Homo sapiens: one gene and its partners. The protein of the gene in region 1 purifies or fractionates together with the protein of each later gene. This does not show direct contact. Each region holds a gene or a part of one and is shown on either strand. Other genes may lie near its edges.

Region 1 (7,116 bases):
CAACCTCAATGAGTTTAACTTGAAACCTTGGGCCTGTGTGCTGCTCCTCTCTCAGAGAGGCCTGGAAAATGGCCAGCTTCCTCCTGGCCTTTTGTTCTTGGGCACAGGGCTGATCTTTTCTTATAATTCCTTTTGTTTTTCTTTTCTTTTTTTTTTGAGATGCAGTTTCACTCTGTCGCCCAGGCTGGAGTGCAAAGGTGTGATCTCGGCTCACTGCAACCTCTGCCTCCCAGGTTCAAGCAATTCTCCTGCCTCAGCCTCTGGAGTAGCTGGGATTACAGGCACCCACCACCACACCCATCTATTTTTTATATTTTTAGTAGAGACGGGGTTTTACCATGTTGGCCAAGCTGGTCTCAAACTCCTGACCTCAGGTGATCTACCCTCCTTGGCCTCCAAAGTGCTGGGATAACAGGTGTAAGCCACTGTGCCCAGCTAATTCCTTTTGATTTTCTTGGCATCCCCCTCAATGTGAGGTTACATTACTGCTGAGTTAGCATCCAACAAAGAGGTGTTACTGATGTCACTTAGTGGCAGAAACGCCTGCATTTGTTTACCCTTAGGAAGCCCTTTCTCACTAGGGAGCATTTGTGCTAGATGAGCCGCTGTAAGAGGCTGGAAACATTATAAGCAGCAGCTGGGAGCCCCTCTGCTCAAGGAGACTCTAGGTGCCCAGGGACAGCGGGGAGCCCAGGACATCAAGCTCAACATCAAATCTTGGCCCCACTTCCCTCCTGGTTCCAGGTGTGGAGCCTGAAGGAAGGCAGAGGAAACGAACTCTTACAAGGGTTTGCTCTGGGCCACTGGGCTGTGTGTGCCACACAATCACCTCCCTGAATTTGGCATGGTTCCAGGCTTTGGGGCTGGAGTGGGTTCGAATCCTAGCTCTGCCACTTCCTAGCTGGATGACCTTGGGCATATGACTTAGTCTCTCTGTGCCTTGGTTTTTCCATCTGCAAAATGGGAACACTACTAGGCTCACATGTCAGGGTAGTGGTAAGGATTACATGAGAGATACCAGGTGTGGTGGCTCATGCCTGTAATACCAGCACTTTGGGAGGCGGAGGCGGGCAGAACAATTAAGCCCAGGAGTTTGAGACCAGCCTGGGCAACATGGTGAAACCCCATCTCTACTAGAAATACAAAGAATTAGCTGGGTGTGGTGGCACACACCTGTAATCCCAGCTACTTGGGAGGCTGAGGCAGGAGATTCATTTGAACCCAGGAGGCAGAGGTTGCTATGAGCCGAGATCTTACCACTGCACTCCAGCCTGGGCGACAGAGTGAGACTTGGCCTCAAAACAAAAACAAAAATAAAATAAATGAGAGAGTAAGTGCTCAGCTGTTAATACTTTTATACTGATCATAGTAATGCTGTGGTGTGTGTATTTGTTAGGACAAGTGAGGCTAAGCTGTGTTGACAAAGAGATGCAGGCCGGGTGCAGTGGCTCACGCCTGTAATCCCAGCACTTTGGGAGGCCGAGGTGGGCAGATCACCTGAGGTCAGGAGTTCAAGACTAGCTTGGCCAACATGGCGAAACCCCGTCTCTACTAAAAAATTACAAAAATTAGCCTGGTGTGGTGGCAGGTGCCTGTAATCTCAGCTACTCAGGAGGCTGAGGCAGGAAGAATTGCTTGAATCTGGGAGCAGAAGTTGCAGTGAGCCGAGATTGCACCATTGCACTCCAGCCTGGGCGACAGAGTGAGACTTAGTCTCAAAAAAAAAAAGATGCAAAAAAGTGGTGGCTTAAATATGATAGGACTCTGTTTCTCTCTCATAGGACAGTGCAAGTGGAGGAGGTCCAGGGCTGATGGGCAGCTCTGCCATTCAATCTGTGGTTTCCATCTCTGACTCTAAGCTGGATACTGTGGTTTCCAGAAGGTTGGGGGAAGGAATACCAGGGAAAGGCATCTGTAATTGTTTTAACTGCCAGACCTGGATGTGGCATGTTATTTCTGCTTGCTGCCATTGATGAGAACTGAGTCACATAGCTCTCCTAGCTGCGAGGGAGGCTGGAAATGCAGTCTTCAGCTGAACGGTCGTGCACCCATCTAGACCTCTGTTACTTTAGGAGAAAACTAGAATGCATTGGCGAGAAATATACCAGGGTGAGTTTTATGATCTCCATTTCGCAACCGAGGAAACTTGCCCAGAATCTCGCAGTGAATAAATAGTAGAGGTGGGATTTGAACTCTGATCTTCCAGTTCCCAAACTCTGTACCAGGTTGCCCCATTGTGCTTAGGCCTCCCAGTTCTCCATCACCAAGGGGGCTTACAGGAATCAACAGGGGAATGAATTCCTCTTGGACAAGAAGTGGGGTTTCAGAGTTGGTAGTGTCCTGGCTGCAGTGCACAGCACAGATGGCAGGTCTGGGCCTTGGGATTTCTGTGGTGTCTAAGGGAATGGTGGATTTGGCCTCTCAACTTTCTTTACATCCATTCTCTCCAGCAAGAGCTCCTAACTGTTCTGGAAACAAGAATGTTTCCTCCACAATCCCATCACTCTAACAAGCCAATGCTGTGTGTGTCTGCCTGCCTCCTTTCCTCCCTCCTTCCCTTTCCTTCCTTCCTTCCTTTCCTTCCTTCCTCCCCTTCCTCCCTCCCTCCCTCCCTCCCTCCCTTCCTTCTTTCCTTCCTTCCTTTCTCCCTTCTGTCCTCCCTCCCTTCCTCTTTAAGTGTTTCCTCATCTTCTGGGTCCTGTACACAGGCATTCACAAGACCACATGGTTGCAATCATAGCAGAGGCAATTGTATGTTCTGCTTTGTCTATTTTAACTTACACCCTAAGCATTCTTCCACGTTGCTACATGATAATCATAGTTATGTTTGCAGCTGCCTGCTGTCATTCTGGTCTTGCTGCCCCCAGGTCTACCTTCCACTCAGCCCCTGCAGGGAAGTGTCTTAAGATGTGAGTCTGATCCTGTGACTTCTCTGCTTAAAGCCATCACTGGCCTCCAGGACAAAGGATAGACTTCTGGCCAGGTGTGGTGGCTCATGCCTGTAATCCCAGCACTTTGGGAGGCCGAGGTGGGCGGATCACTCGAGGCGAGGAGTTCGAGACCAGCCTGGCTAACATGGTGAAACCCCGTCTCTACAAAAAATACAAAAATTAATGGGGCATGTTGGCGCATGCCTGTAATCCCAGCTACTCGGGAGGCTGAGGCATGAGAATCACTTGAACCCAGGAGACGGAGGTTGCAGTGAGCTCAGATCTTGCCACGGCACTCCAGCTTGGACAACAGAGTGAGATTCTATCTTTAAAAAAAAACAAAACAGGATATGCTTCTGGGCCTGACACCCAAGGCATCCAGACGCTGGCCCTGGTGACCCCCTTACCTCCTCTCCCCCATGCAGCCAGGGTCTTGGCAGGAAGCAGAATTCAGCCCAGATGATTCCAATAAAGAGACTTTAATGGAGGAATGACTTCTAGAGAGTAGGGTGAGGGGACCCAACAAGGAAGTGGGGGACGCAGAGGCCAGCAGCAGCAGCAGACACTCTATGGCAGAGGCACTGGGGTGGCAAGGGAGCTGGGAAGCAATGCCCCGTCTTCCTCCTCTTCCCTCTCTGCCATCTTCTCTGAGTGCCTCCCATTGGCTCAATCCCACTGGAAGCCAGAAGGCCTGGGGAACTGGGACAACAGGGACCAATACGTGTCAGAGAAGGACAGACGATGGACCTGGTGGGTGTGTGGGGCAAATGGAGGACCTCCTGTATACCCCCAGCACCCCCAGGCTTGGGACTCTTGCTGGCATCTGCACCTTTGTAGTGGCAGTGCCCTACTGGATAAACCTGTCAGTCCTTCTCCACCTGGCAAACTCCTGCATCTTCAGTCTCATTTGGACATTCCCGTTTCTGTACCTCCATCGTGGTACTCAACACACAGCAATCAAGACTGCCTGCCCACGACTCTGCCCCCTCCCTGGACCAAGCTCCTTCAAGGAGTGACCCCATCTTTTAATTGTTGAGAGCACGCAGTAAATGGCAGGTGAGCAGGGCTAGGGTGACATGAGTGAGGCAGTAGCCCTTGGTGTGAGATTTAAGCGGGGGAGGAAGGGAGTTTGCTAGAAATCTTAGTAATCAAGACAAAATATTTGAATACAATATTTAAAAAAAAATCAAATCATCAAACTACAGCCCATGGGTTGGCTACCTCTTTTGAGCGCCCACCCAAACTGGAATAGCTCCCAAGACCTCTAGCATGGTGTTCAAAAATTATTTTTGAGTTGGGCGCAGTGGCTTATGCCTGTAATCTCAGCACTTTGGGAGGCCGAGGCGGGCTGATCACTAGGTCAGGAGATTGAGATCATCCTGGCTAACGCGGTGAAACCCCGTCTGTACTAAAATTACAAAAAATTAGCTGAGCTTGGTGGCACGCACCTGTAGTCCCAGCTACTCGGGAGGCTGAGGCAGGAGAATTTCTTGAACCCAGGAGGCGGAGGTTGCAGTGAGCAACCTCCACTCCAGCCTGGGCGACAGAGCGAGACTCTGTCTCAAAAAAAAAAAAAAAGGGTTCACAATGCAGGACTCATCTTTACTTAACATACCCTCTATTCACCCTGATATTTTCTATTCTAGTCTAGTTTATTTGGCGTCATTAAAAAGTGCTGCTCATACCTTTCTTTTCTTTTCTTTCTTTTTTCTTTTTTTTGAGATAGAGTTTCACTCTTGTTGCCCAGGCTGGAGTGCAATGGCATGATCTTGGCTCACCACAACCTCTGCCTCCTGGGTTCAAGCGATTCTCCTGCCTCAGCCTCCCGAGTAGCTGGGATTACAGACATGTGACACCATGCCTGGCTAATTTTGTATTTTTAGTAGAGACGGGGTTTCTCCATGTTGGCCAGGCTGGCCTCAAACTCCCAACCTCAGGTGATCCGCCCGCCTCAGCCTCCCAAAGTCCTGGGATTATAAGCGTGAGCCACCATGCCCAGCCTGCCCATAACCTTTCAAATTCTGGCTTGAAAAACATTGAGCCTGTCATATCATCCTGCTTAATTTTCTCTGCTTTTAGCTGCCTGATACTTCCTTCTTATGATTTGTCTCTTTGCTGATCTCCCGTCTTGCCTTCGGGGTACAGCTCCCTGAAAGCAGGAACCCCATCTAGCTTGTCACTGCTGTCTTCTCAGCTCCGGGAACAGCGTCTGGCACGTAGGCGGCAGGTGTCCCGCAGTGAGCTGTTGAGCAAGCGAGTGAGTGGTGTTGGAGCAGAGGGGATGTGGGCCCTGGAAGCCAGGCTTTTCTAATTGCCTTGTTTTCCTCCCCTTCCCAGTTTGCCCTGGGGCCCCAGCCTGGCCCGGGTCACCCTGGCATGAGGAGATGGGCCTGTTGCTCCTGGTCCCGTTGCTCCTGCTGCCCGGCTCCTACGGACTGCCCTTCTACAACGGCTTCTACTACTCCAACAGCGCCAACGACCAGAACCTAGGCAACGGTCATGGCAAAGGTAGGCGACCTCCTGCACCCGGCTCTTTGCTCCCCTGGGTGACCTAGACCTCCTTGGCTCTTGCTGTGATCTGAGGGTTCCAGGCTGGGACAGGGACAGCAGCCCTGTTCCAGCAGGGCCCTTGTAGTGGGCCAGCTTGCTTCTCAGACAGGGGAAGGGGTGAGTTCATTTTCCTGTGTTCGCCAGCCCCTTCGTCATGGGGCCCAATTCACTTAGGCTTTTTACTTTCCCTAAAAGTCTTGCCAGTTGTTCAAGGTCCAGCTTGAATGTGTCCTCCCCTGGTCCCCCCAGTGGAAAGGGGACCTGGGGTCGAATAGATGTGAGTTTGAATGTTTTTTTTGTTTGTTTTTGAGATAAAGTCTCACTCTGTTGCCGAGGCTGGAGTGCAATGGCACGATCTCGGCTCACTGCAACCTCTGCCTCCCGGGTTCAAGCGATTCTCCTGCCTCGGCCTCCCGAGTAGCTGGGATTACAAGCATGTGCCACCATGCCTGGCTACTTTTTGTATTTTTAGTAGAGAAGGGGTTTCACCATGTTGGCCAGGCTGGTCTTGAACTCCTGACCTCAGGTGATCCACCTGCCTCGACCTCCCAAATTGCTGGGATTACAGGCATAAGCCACCATGCCTGGCCCGAGTTTGAATCTTATAATTCTACCTCTTACTAGCTGTGTGGCCTTGGGCAGGGAACGTTTTAAAGTAGCAGTTATTGTGCACCCAACATGGGTTGGGCGCGCTTCTAGATATTTTGCATATGTCGTCTCCTGTAATCACAAAAGCCCTGATGTAGGCAAGGGTGAAAATATACCTTTTTTTTTTTTTTTTTAAGATGGAGTCTCACTTTGTTGTCCAGGCTGGAGTGCAGTGGCGCGATCTTGGCTCACTGCAGCCTCTGCCTCCCAGGTTCAAGCGATTCTCCTGCCTCAGCCTCCCAAGCAGCTGGGATTACAGGCATCTGCCACCACACCTGGCTAATTTTTGTACTTTTAGTAGAAATGGGGGTTTCTCCATGTTGGCCAGGCTGGTCCTGAACTCTTGACCTCAGGTGATCCACCCGCCTCAGCCTCCCAAAATGCTGGGATTACAGGCGTGAGCCAACGAGCCTTGCCGAAAATACACATTTTTAACCATTAGTGCAGCACGGGTGCTGACCAGGCTGAATTGATGCTGTCTGCCCTCACAGCCTGAAAGTAGATTCTATTATCATCCCTTCTCATAGATGAGCAAACTAGGCTCAGAGAGTTGATCCAGTTGTCCAGGTCAAACAGCTATTAAAAAGACAAAGCTGAGGGCTGGGTGCAGTGGCTCATGCCTATAATCCCAGCACTTTGGGAGACTGAGGTGAGTGGATCACTTGAGGTCAGGAGTTCAAGGCCAGCCTGGCCAACATACCGAAACCCTCTACTAAAGATACAAAAAATTGGCCAGGCGCGGTGACTCACACCTGTAATCCCAGCACTTAAGGAGGCCGAGGTGGATGGATCACGAGGTCAAGAGATCAAGACCATTCTGACCAACCTGGTGAAATCCTGTCTCTACTAAAAATACAAAAGTAGCCGGGCGTGGTGGCAGGTGCCTTTAATCCCAGCTTCTCAGGAGGCTGAGGCAGGAGAATTGCTTGAACCTGGGAGGCAGAGGTTGCAGTGAGCTGAGATCATACCACTGCACTCCAGCCTGAAC
Region 2 (5,009 bases), on another chromosome or scaffold:
ATGGGAAAATAAAATTGCCTAGAACACAAGTGGTCTGATTGTCCCATATAAGAACTACACGAATAGGCCAGTTCTAATACTGACCTTTAAATAGGGCAAAGTAAAGTTCATTTATGAATGTAAAAGAAATGCCTACCTTGAAGCACCATTACCATATACAGAAAGGTAAGAACACTTCATAACTCAGAAGTGTAAATCACTCATTCTCTCTCACTTAAAACCTCTTAATATCCCCTGGTAGCAGTGGTTCTTAAAGTATGAGCCCCAGAACAATTTCTGAAATCAGCAGGAAAGTTGTTACAAATGCAAATTCTTAGACAGCTCCAGACCTACAGAATCAAAAACTCTGGAGGTGTGGCCTAACAATGTCTTTGTCAAGCCCTCTAGGTCATTTTGATCCACTAAATTTGAAAGTCACTTCCCTATATATAGGAAAGCACCCTTTATGTCATATTTTTTTTCCCCTAATAAAACTATAGGCCGGGTGCGGTGGCTCACGCCTGTAATCCCAGCACTTTGGGAGGCCGAGACGGGTGGATTACCTAAGGTCAGGAGTTCCATACCAGCCTGGCCAACATGGTAAACCCGTCTCTACTAAAAATACAAAAATTAGCTGGGTGTCTTGGCGGGCACCTGTAATCCCAACTACTCAGGAGGCTGAGGTGAGAGAATTGCTTGAGCCCGAGAGTTGGAGGTTGCAGTGAGCCAAGATCGCACCACTGCACTCCAGCCTGGGCTTGTTGAGCAAAACTCCGTCTCAAAAAATAAATAAATAAATAAATAAAACTATAACATTCTTTTTTCCTTAAGGGAAAAACCAGAATATTTATAATTACTGCTTCCATTTGCCTTTCATTTTAGATGACCTTTAGTTACTGGTATGTTTTCCAATATATCCATGTAAAGTGAATATAATATACCTAATACGTATAAATTGATGGAAATCTTTTAGAAAGGCCAACACAGTCTCTAGATAAGGTAGGTTCTCTTAATTCACTTAAGCTTTATCATAAAAAATAACTATGCTTAAGAAATAGTGCTTCTTATGAGCAAATATAATTCAAATATTCCATGTCAAAAATGTTGCTAATGCTCAGCTACTTAATGAACTTTATTAATTCAGAAAAATTTTTTTTTACCTTTTTAAAACAGCCTGGAAGAGTTGTGACTCTTGTTGAAGATCCTGCGGTATGGTATAAATATTCTTTTTTGTATAATTTTAATTTTATAAAATGTTGCGATGTTTCTGTTTCAATTTGATTAACAATCATCACAGACAATTTGAACTACCCTAAATTTAGAATTCTTCTCTGTATTTGTGGGTTTTTTTTGTGTTTGTGAAAACTGAGGCCAATAAGAAAAGTTAGAATGCAGAGTGCAAGGTAGACAACAACGTACAGACAAATAGCATGTAGTTTTCGTTTTTGTGGGGTTTTTTGAGACAGAGTCTAGCTCTGTCGCCCAGGCTGGAGTGCAGTGGCGCGATCTCGGCTCACTGCAAGCTCCGCCTCCCGGGTTCACGCCATTCTCCTGCCTCAGCCTCCCAAGTAGCTGGGACTACAGGCGCCCGCCACCATGTCTGGCTAATTTTTTGTATTTTTAGTAGAGACGAGGTTTCACCGTGTTAGCCAGGATGGTCTCAATCTCCCGACCTCGTGATCCGCCCGCCTTGGCCTCCCAAAGTGCTGGGATTACAGGCATGAGCCACCGCGCCCAGCCGTGGGATTTTTTTAAAAACAAGTTTATTAACTAAGAATTTTGTGGTCCCCTTTGACATTAACGGAAATACCTGCCCCCGACAGCCAGACTACCACCGAGAATTAAATGGAACCCTTAAAAGCTCTCTTCACTTTTGCTACCAGTCTCATTTTCAGCAGAAATCTAAGTGAGGAATTCTTATTTTCTTTATTGCTTAATTGTATCAATAGCACCTGTGTGTTGTGTTTTGTGTTTTTGTTTTTAAGTTCAGGAGTACATGTGCAGGATGTGCAAGTTTGTTACATAGGTAAACATGTGTCATGGGGGTTTGTTGTACAGATTATTTCATCACCCAGGTATTAACATTAAGCCTAGTATCAATTAGTTATTTTTCTAGATCCTCTCCCTCCTCCCACCCTCCACCCTCCCGTAGACCCCAGTAGAACCTGTGATTTTAAAACTGGTTTGGAGCACCAGAAAGTTTTATTTAACCAACAATCCTCAGTTTCTTAAATATTTTCAGTCATTTTATTGGGGTACAGATTCAGAATTTTATATTGTGAAATTAAATGTTTAACTTTGGAAAGGACTTTAATAAACAAAAATCAAGCAGTTAGTAATGGCAGATAAATAATGGTGTGGATTAGGAAATGCTTTCATAATTGATACTACGAAAAGCATTTATAAAAAAGATCTTCAAATTGGTAACTTATAACTCCTAATTAAACAGTTAATAAACAAATGGCACTTTGTTTCTAGAATTTTTTAATGACCAAGTGAAAGGCTCATATTTTTCATTTCAGTCCCGTTATTAAAGAAAAAGACCAAATTAAAAAAAAATTTTTTTAAGATAAAATATCTTGCTGTGCCTATGATACAAAGAAATTATTCACAATGGAGATTTTAAAGTGCTTATTTCCTTTATTGTTTAGTATGTTCTTCTGTGCACTTTAAGTGAAGAAAAACTGTATTGACTTTTATTTATTTTTTATTTTTTTGAGACAGTCTCACTCTATAACCCAGGCTTGAGTTCAGTGGCATGATCTCGGCTCACTGCCACCTCTGCCACCCGGGTTCAAGCAATGCTCCTGCCTCAGCCTCCTGAGTAGCTGGGATTACAAGTGCCTGCCACTGTGCCTGACTAATTTTTGTATTTTTAGTAAAGACGGGGTTTCACCATCTTGGCCAGGCTGGTCTTCCACTCCTGACCTCGTGATCCACTCACCTCGGCCTCCCAAAGTGCTGGTATTACAGGCGTGAGCCACCGCTCCTGGCCCACTTTTAAAAATATACAAGATACAGGCAGGCATGGTGGTTCACACCTGTAATCCCAGCACACTGGGAGGCCGAGGCAGGTGGATCACTTGAGGTCAGGAGTTTGAGACCAGCCTGGCCAACGTGACAAAACCCCTTCTCTACTAAAAATACAAAAATTAGCTGGGCATGGTGGTGCATTCCTGTAATCCCAGTCACTTGAGAGGCTGAGGCAGGAGAATAGCTTGAACCCGGGAGGCTGAGGTTGCAGTAGGCCACGATCGTGCCACTGCACCACAGCCTGGGCAACAGACAAGACTTCATCTCAAAAACAAACAGAAAAGAATATATGAGATACTCCCTTAGATCACAACCTTTCTTCACCTATTTTAATTAGCCTTATAATACCAGTGTATTCTTTTCATTTTTCAACAGGGATGTGTATGGGGTGTTGCTTACAGATTGCCAGTAGGAAAGGAAGAAGAAGTAAAAGCATACCTTGACTTCAGAGAAAAAGGAGGCTACAGAACCACAACAGTCATTTTTTATCCAAAAGATCCCACAACAAAACCATTCAGTGTATTGCTATATATTGGAACATGTGATAATCCTGATTATCTTGGTCCTGCACCTCTGGAAGACATTGCTGAACAAATTTTTAATGCAGCTGGTCCAAGTGGAAGAAATACAGAATATCTTTTTGAACTTGCAAATTCTATTAGGAACCTTGTGCCAGAAGAAGCAGATGAGCATCTTTTCGCTTTGGAAAAATTAGTAAAGGAACGTTTAGAAGGGAAACAGAACCTCAATTGCATATAATTTAGTCTTCAGAGAATTAACTTCAGTGCACAATGACAATATGATTTGGAAATACGTTTACTTAAAGATCTTATTTTTAATGTAGTGAGGATATTATTTAAACTTTTATTTTAACTGGAAATGTCCTGAAACACATATTTAAAATATTGGGATACAGTGAAAGAAAAATTCAAATTTTAATAACATAAAGATTTCCTAACTTTATGTTATTGAACACTTACTCACTAGAAGTGAGTTCTTTAGAAAAATACAGTGAAGGACTCAGTTCAGTCTTGTTTTTATCAGAGTGATAATCATCCTGTTTCACATCCCAATACTATTTTGAAATTCTAAACAATTAAACCAAAATTCCAATAAATATAAGGTTATGCCTTCAATATATTCCTATACAATTCTGTAACCATGGTTTAAAATACACAAGCTTAAAATAACATGCTTAGAAATACACAATAATATGAACAGTATTTCAGCCTTAATTGTGAATTTCCTTGTTATTCAAGTATTAAATGAAATCTTTTGAGTTTTTAGCCAAAAATTGGCATTTTTAAAATACGAAAATTTCCTTGGAATTATAATGTACTGTACCTCTTCTTTTTTAAATAAAGGCATTTTACTATATGGAAAATAACTCACTAAAGCATAAATTACATTATACAAATCATGATCACTAATGATGTAGTCTGTCATTCACTTTGTATTAATCTTATACCAAAACTGAAAAAGATGGGCTGATACTACAAATTAATGGCACATATAATGAAAATTTAGTTTTTAAAACAGCTTTTGGAATTCTTTGTCTGTCACTATCTCAATTTGTGTGTGTGTGTGTGTATATACATATATATACATATAAAATTTTTTTTTTCTTTGCAGCCTGCGTCTGGCCATCCCACAGGCTGGAAAGTGTAACCTCTGGCAGAAGCCAAGAACAGGCACCTCCTGGAATTATAATTTTGTTTTGTTTTTTGAGACGGAGTATCGCTCTGTTGCCTAGGCTGGAGTGCAGTGGTGCCAACCTCAGCTCACTGCAGCCTTCACCTCCCAGGTTCAAGGAATTCTCCTGCCTCAGCCTCCCGCGTAGCTGGGATTACAGGCATGTGCCACCACGCCCGGCTAATTTTTGTATTTTTAGTAGAGACGGGGTTTCACCATGTTGGCCAAGCTGGTCTCGATCTCCTGACCTCAGGTGATCCACCAGCCTCAGCCTCCCAAAGTGCTAGGATTACAGGTGTGAGCCA
Region 3 (7,116 bases), on another chromosome or scaffold:
ATCAGCCTGGGCAACATGGCAAAACCCCATCTCTACAAAAAATAGCCAGGCGTGGTGACACACACCTGTAGTCTCAGCTAATTGGGAGGCTGAGGCAGGAGAATCGCTTGAGCCCAGGAGGTCGAGGTTGTAGTGAGCAGAGATTGTGTCACTGTACTCCAGACTGGGCAACAGAGTGAGACACTGTCTTAAAAAAGTGATTGGGCAGGCACAGTGGCTCACGCCTGCAATCCCAGCACTTTGGGAGGCCAAGGCAGGCGGATCACCTGAGGTCAGGAATTCAAGACCAGCCTGGCCAACATGGCGAAACCCCGTCTCTATTAAAAATACAAAAAAATTAGCCGGGCATGGTGTACGCCTGTGGTCCCAGCTACTCGGGAGGCTGAGGCAGGAGAATCACTTGAACCCAGGAGCTGGAGGTTGCAGTGAGCTGAGATCGCACCACTGCACTTCAGCCTGCACAGAGACTCTGTCTCCAAAAAAAAAAAAAAATTCAGAATTTAAAAGGGACTAAAATTTCAAGAAATGGGAAATATAATAACCAAAAATGAAAAACTCAACATTTGCCTATAACAGTTTAACAGTTAACAGACAAAGCTAAAGACAGAATTAGTGAACTGGAGGGTGATCGAGAATGGAGCACAGAGACTGAAAAATCAAAGTGGCTGCGAGAGTAAAGCATGGAATAGAGCAGAAACCTGTGGCATGTTTCACCAGAGCCCACCAGTGGGTGGGGACAGAGATGGTGCGGGGAGAGTGACCAAGGTTTCAGAACTGATGAGTACCACCAGGTCAGAATCCGACACAGAGTAAGTGAAAATAAACCGACATGGGATTTTCCCGTGGTGGAACTGAAGAAAACAGAGACAAAGAAATATTTGAAAAGCTCCTGAGGGCAAAAGATGACTTCCAAAGGGGCAACAGACAGCCGGACAGCTGATTTCTGCACAGCAGTTGGAAGCCAAAATTGGTAGAATGTGCTGAAAGAAGCCAGCCCGGATCCTGGATCTGTCCAGTAGTCAGTCGCCGTGTGTGCTGTCAAATTTTTAGCGAAGAATTCAGTTCCTCAGTTGCACCACTGCCCTTAAGTGTGTGGCAGCCACGTGGGCTGGTGGCAGCTGTGTTGGGCAGCACAGGCCTGGAACGTTTCTATCTAGCCCGATTCATTTTTAACAAAATTGACTTTAAGAAAAAAAGTATTGCAAAAGATTTTTTTAAAGTCACCTTATAATGATAAACAGTTTAACCAGAAAGGCATAGCAAATTTGAAATTGTATGCATCTGGCAACATGGCTTCAGGGTATATTAATATAAAGCCAGAAATAGCAGAGAGAAGCTGCAGATCCAGGGTGGTGGATTTTCACTGCCTCCGTCTGCAGCTCTTGGGCCAGGCACACCTGCCTAGCGGACTCGGTAGAGCACGGTTTTTTTTCTGTCCCGTAATCCCTGCTTTTCTCCTTGTGAGTGTTGTGGATTGGGGCAGCCTGGCCTCCCTTGGTGCAGGGCTGCGGGGCATCCCTGTCCTGAACGTGCCTCTGTTGTGTGTGGCTCAGGCGGTGGAATCCATCCAGGCCGAGGACGAGAGCGCCAAGCTGTGCAAGCGCCGGATCGAGCACCTCAAAGAGCATAGCAGCGACCAGCCCGCGGCGGCCAGCGTGTGGAAGAGGAAGCGCATGGATCGCATGATGGTGGAGCACCTGCTGCGTTGCGGCTACTACAACACGGCTGTCAAGCTGGCGCGCCAGAGCGGCATCGAGGTGGGTGCCCGCCAGACGCAGGCACAGCGCCCCAGCTGGCCCCAGGCCTATGGCCAGCCGCCCTGTGGCATGTCCCCCGGCATGCCTGTGTCCCTACATGCTTGTGTTCCCCTCCCCCCACCCCCGTATGCTTGTGTTCCCCTCCCCCCACCCCCGTGTGCGTGTGTCCCCCCTCCAGTGTGTGTGTGTGTCCCCCTCCCCGTGTGCGTGTCCCCCTCCCCCCATGTGCATGTCCCCACCCCTGTGTGCGTGTGTCCCCTTCCCGTGTGTGTGCCCCCCCCCCCCCAATGTGCGTGTTTCTCCCCCACCCCGTGTGTGTGTCTGCGCTGTGGTGAGGGCCTCCTCCCCAGCTGAGAGGCCCTGACCCTTTGTGGAAACGCACCTGGGACTTAGCCTTCTGAAGGCAGGAAGTCAGTGTCTAAGCGGCTCTCCAGGTTCTTCTCATTTCCCTGTGGTGTCTGCACACATCCTGCTTAGGATTTTCCCGCCCGATACCTGTACCCCGGGTTTTGCGCTGACACATGCTCCATTGCTTCCTCGTGAGAGCTTTGCCTTTATCTCAGGCGGGGTGCGTTTTCCGTGTTTTCTGTGGCACCCTGTAGAAACACGTGGCACCCTTGCCCTCTGTGGCTACAGCTGAGCAGACGCTGGGCGGTGCTGCCCTCTGGCACCTTTGGGCCAGGTTAGCTGGGGCGGCCTCTCTGCCATCGGGCAGTTGTCCACTGCTGTGGGGGCCCATGGCAGTTGGAGCCTCCCAGACCAGCACTTGGGCCCGTCGCCCTTGCCCCTGTCCAGATCCTGCTGTGGGAGCACAGCCTCACCTGACTCGGGTTAAGGTGGCGTCCGTGTTCCATTTGACTGAGATGACAACACTTGAGAACCTCTCAGGCAGGACTTGTGCGAGAGGATTGTGCCCCATGGCCCTGTCCCGGGCCCAGCCTCCCCATGCCCAGCCATGCGCCTGGCCCCACAGGCCTCCCTCCCATGCTGCTCCCTGCCACGGCTCCTCAGCCCACCTCCTCCCTGCTTCTGTCTAACCAGGGGTCTTCTCTCTTTCCACGGCTTAAATCCCACCCACATGTGTGTGGCTCCCACCTGGGGCATCATGGGCCTCAGCCCTGGCTGAATTCAACCCCAGCACAAGGCTCCCTTCCCAGCCTTGGAGGCGGCCTCACATTGTGCAGTCCAAGGCCTCGGGTGCCCATGGGGCCACACTCACGCCCCCATGCAGCCATCTGCACGCCCTGCTGGCTTGCAGCCTCCCCCACACTCCTGTCACGCTCCTGCCCAGCTCCCCAGCCTTGCGGCACTCCAGACTCACCCCCAGGCCCACCCGGCCCCACACTCCAGACTCACCTGCAGGCCCACCACGGCCCCACACTCTAGACTCACCCCCAGGCCCACCCCGGCCCCCACACTCCAGACTCACCTGCAGGCCCACCCGGTCCCACACTCCAGACTCACCCCCAGGCCCACCCCGGCCCCCACACTCCACACTCACCTGCAGGCCCACCCGGTCCCACACTCCAGACTCACCCGCAGGCCCACCCCAGCCCCCACACTCCAGACTCACCTGCAGGCCCACCCCAGCCCCCACACTCCAGACTCACCCGCAGGCTCACCCCAGCCCCCACACTCCAGACTCACCCGCAGGCCCACCCCAGCCCCCACACTCCAGACTCACCTGCAGGCCCACCCGGCCCCACACTCCAGACTCACCCGCAGGCCCCACACTCTGGACTCATCTGCAGGCCCCACACTCCGGACTCATCTGCAGGCCCCACACTCCGGACTCACCCGCAGACCCACCTGGCCCCACCCTCTTGCTGGCTCTTGTCCTCGGCATTTGTCCCGCACCTCGTTCACCTTCTCTCAGATGCTGCCCTGGGTGGAGCGGCACCCTCCCACCCATGCCTTCTCCCCACTGCTGCACAGCCTCCCTGCTTGTGTGTGTGTGTGGTGTCCGTCCTGCCCTCCAGGAGGGGAGTGGCGAGCAGCTGCCCAGTGGGCAGGGTGAGCGAGTGAGTCCTCGTGTCCTGGAGGCCCTCATCTGCCCAGACCTGCACAGCACTGTTGCTCTCGGCACCGCTGGGGTATGGCGTCTCGGTTCACAAGCGTGAATGTGATGTGTCACAGCTGTGCCATGAGTTGATCTGCCAGATGGCAAAGTGCACTGATCCTCTGCGGTGACCGGGGCTGGTGCCCCTGGGTGCCCTGCAGTCTTGTTGAGTTTCCGAAGTCTCCAGGTCATGACTCGCAGCCACTCCAGTGTGCACCCAACATTCTCATCGCTGGACGGGGTCGTCTGTGATGCCTCTGCCGTGCTGCCCACTGGGCTGCTGTGGCCCCCATCTGGTGCCATTTTTCCTCCACCTGGGTGTCAGGGAAGGGCATTCTCACCTGCACCTGCCCAGGCTCATGTGACGGACAGTGGGCCAGCACATGTCCGCTCCGGTGCCCTGTCCCACATGCCTTTCCCACCCACCCGCCTCCCTGGCCCCGTGTGCCCGGCTTCCCCCAATGCACAGGCCCTCGCTCCGTGCTGCCCACATGTCCTGGCTGCCTGGGGCGGCCCCCCGTGTGTTCATAGATGACCTAGCCATCCTCTCCTAAACGCCCAGCACACTGTCCTTGGGACCCATGGGGTGTGACCAAGCAACCTGGCGGTGGCTGCTGAAGCATGAGCTGTGGGTGCCCCTGGCCCCAGGGAATGTGCGCTGTGTTGGGGGAGAGAGACGTGAAGTGAAAGAAGGGGGTCCTGTGGTGGGCACAGGCCACGCGTTCCACAGAAGTGCGTAGAGCAGGGTGGATATGGGAGTGCTGATGATTCTAAGGCCAGTTGGAGTAGGCCTCAGCAGGGTGAGACGGGCTACACTCAAGGTGTTGGGGTGCCCTGAGCATGTCTGTCCAAAAGAGGGCCTGGAGCTGCTGTGTGGAAGAAGGCGGGCGTGTGGAGCCCATGAGGACTGGGTTGCGGGGGAGGGGTTCTTTCTGCTGAGATGCTCCGGAGGGCGTTGAGCTGAGGAATCGCTTTTGACCACAGGTGACCATGGCACTAGGAAGCCCTGGGGAAGGTGCTGCTGTGGCCGAGGGGGAGCTGCCAGGTTGTGGAAATGTAAACCCCGGCTGCGCTGGTCAGACCTGGACTTCCTGTAGGGGGCGCCATGGAATTCCCACGTGGGACCCCAGTTTCCTACCTGTGCACCAAAATTCCTGTGCACCAAAATTGGAGACGTGACAAACTTAGGAAAATAACCTCATGCTCTGGATTGGAGCAAGGTCCCAGACAATACAGGACAGGAAGCTGCTGCCAAGGGAAGGCCACCCAGGAACAGGACAGGAAGCTGCTGCCCAGGGAAGGCCACACAGGAACAGGACAGGAAGCCTGCTGCCGAGGGAAGGCTGCCCAGGAGGGGCAGAACAGAGTCCTCAGTGTGGCTGGTGCTGTGCGCCTGCCTGTGCTGCCTTAGGCTGGACGCAGGGCTCTCAACCCGTAATCCTAGCACTCTGGGAGGCTGAGGCGAGCGGATCTGTTGAGCCCAGGAGTTTGAGACCAGCCTGGGCAGCAAAGTGAGAACCCTTCTCTACAAATTTTTTTTCAAATTAGCTGGGAGTGTTGGTGGGTGCCTGGGGTCCCAGCTACTCTGGAGGCTGCAGTGGGAGGATCACTTGAGCCCAGGAGGTGGAGGCTGCAGTGAGCCAAGATTGCACCACTGCACTCCAGCCTGGGCAACAGGACAACACCCTGTCTCAAAACAAACAAAAGTCAGCATGAGCATTTCGTGTGAGACAGAAAACCAGTTCACTTAGATGGTTTCTAGTTTCAGTTGACGTACGAGCCTGCTGCCAGCTGGCCTCACATCTTTCATGTGACTCTCACAACCGGAGACCCGGACATTGGAGAAACCCTCAGTAAGAGAGATCCAACTGGGTTCAGACCCCGAGGCTGTGTTGACGGGACATGAGGCAGGATATAGACCAGGAGCCACCTCCTGAAATTTAGAGCAAAACTACAAAACAAGGCCTTTGGGAGACCAGGGTGGGAGCATCACTTGAGCCCAGGAATTTGAGGCAACAGTGAGCCATGATCTCACCACTGTATTCCATCCAGTCTGGACAAGAGAGCGAGACCCTGTCTCAAAAAAAAAAAAATGGTTTTTCAAGTTGCAAAACAAAGTAAGACTTTGTGGGAGACCCAACATTCGCCTGCCCTGAAGGGGCTTCAGAAAAGAAATCATCAAAGCAAACATGCAAGAAAACACTATGAAGGGGCTCCAGAAAAGAATCATCAAAGCAAACATGCAAGAAAACGCTATGAAGGGGCTTCAGAAAAGAATCATCAAAGCAAACATTCAAGAAAACGCTATGAAGGGGCTTCAGAAAAGAATCATCAAAGCAAACATGCAAGAAAACGCTATGAAGGGGCTCCAGAAAAGAAATCATCAAAGCAAACATGCAAGGAAACGCTATGAAGGGGCTTCAGAAAAGAAATCATCAAAGCAAACATGCAAGAAAACGCTATGAAGGGGCTTCAGAAAAGAATCATCAAAGCAAACATGCAAGAAAACACTATGAAGGGGCTTCAGAAATCATCAGAACAAACGTGCAAGAAAACACTATGAAGGGGCTTCAGAAAAGAAATCAAAGCAAACGTGCAAGAAAACTCTATGACGGGGCTTCAGAAAAGAAATCAAAGCAAACGTGCAAGAAAATGCTATGAAGGGGCTTCAGAAAAGAAATCATCAAAGCAAACATGCAAGAAAATGCTATGAAGGGGCTTCAGAAAAGAATCATCAACATGCAGGAAAACGCTGTGAAGGGGCTTTAGAAAGAAATTATCAAAGCAAATATGCAAGAAAACGCTATGAAGGGGCTTCAGAAAAGAAATCATCAAAGCAAACATGCAAGAAAACGCTATGAAGGGGCTTCAGAAAAGAAATCATCAAAGCAAACCTGCAAGAAAATGCTATGAAGGGGCTTCAGAAAAGAAATCAAAGCAAACGTGCAAGAAAACGCTATGGAGGGGCATCAGAAAAGAAATAATCAAAGCAAACGTGCAAGAAGACACTATGAAGGGGTTTCAGAAAAGAAATCATCAACATGAACATGCAAGAAGACGCTATGAAGGGGCTTCAGAAAAGAAATCATCAAAGCGAACATGCAAGAAAACGCTATGAAGGGGCTTCAGAAAAGAAATCATCAAAGCAAACATGCAAGAGGCCGGGCACGGTGGCTCACGCCTGTAATCCCAGCACTCTGGGAGGCCAAGGTGGGCAGATCACGAGTTCAGGAGATCGAGACCATCCTGGCTAACACGGTGAAACCCTGTCTCTACTAAAAATACAAAAATTTAGCCGGG

What was found.
Region 2: the proteins of HAPLN3 (region 1) and CHAC2 purify together in Homo sapiens (affinity purification with mass spectrometry; 2 studies listed by BioGRID and IntAct, with this or other methods). This does not show direct contact.
Region 3: the proteins of HAPLN3 (region 1) and MAEA purify together in Homo sapiens (co-immunoprecipitation; 2 studies listed by BioGRID and IntAct, with this or other methods). This does not show direct contact.

The regions. Positions count from the first base shown.
Region 1 is NC_000015.10:88,885,497-88,892,612, reverse strand, and holds part of HAPLN3 (hyaluronan and proteoglycan link protein 3 isoform 2 precursor), read left to right. Parts: intron 1-3,232; exon of another isoform or gene 3,233-5,187; intron 5,188-5,267; coding exon of another isoform or gene 5,268-5,314; coding exon 5,315-5,438; intron 5,439-7,116. UniProt on the Homo sapiens protein: May function in hyaluronic acid binding.
Region 2 is NC_000002.12:53,770,755-53,775,763, forward strand, and holds the end of CHAC2 (glutathione-specific gamma-glutamylcyclotransferase 2), read left to right. Parts: intron 1-1,152; coding exon 1,153-1,188; exon of another isoform or gene 1,189-1,190; coding exon of another isoform or gene 1,191-1,193; intron 1,194-3,387; coding exon 3,388-3,771; 3' UTR 3,772-4,442; downstream 4,443-5,009. UniProt on the Homo sapiens protein: Catalyzes the cleavage of glutathione into 5-oxo-L-proline and a Cys-Gly dipeptide. Acts specifically on glutathione, but not on other gamma-glutamyl peptides.
Region 3 is NC_000004.12:1,313,844-1,320,959, forward strand, and holds part of MAEA (E3 ubiquitin-protein transferase MAEA), read left to right. Parts: intron 1-1,553; coding exon 1,554-1,757; intron 1,758-7,116.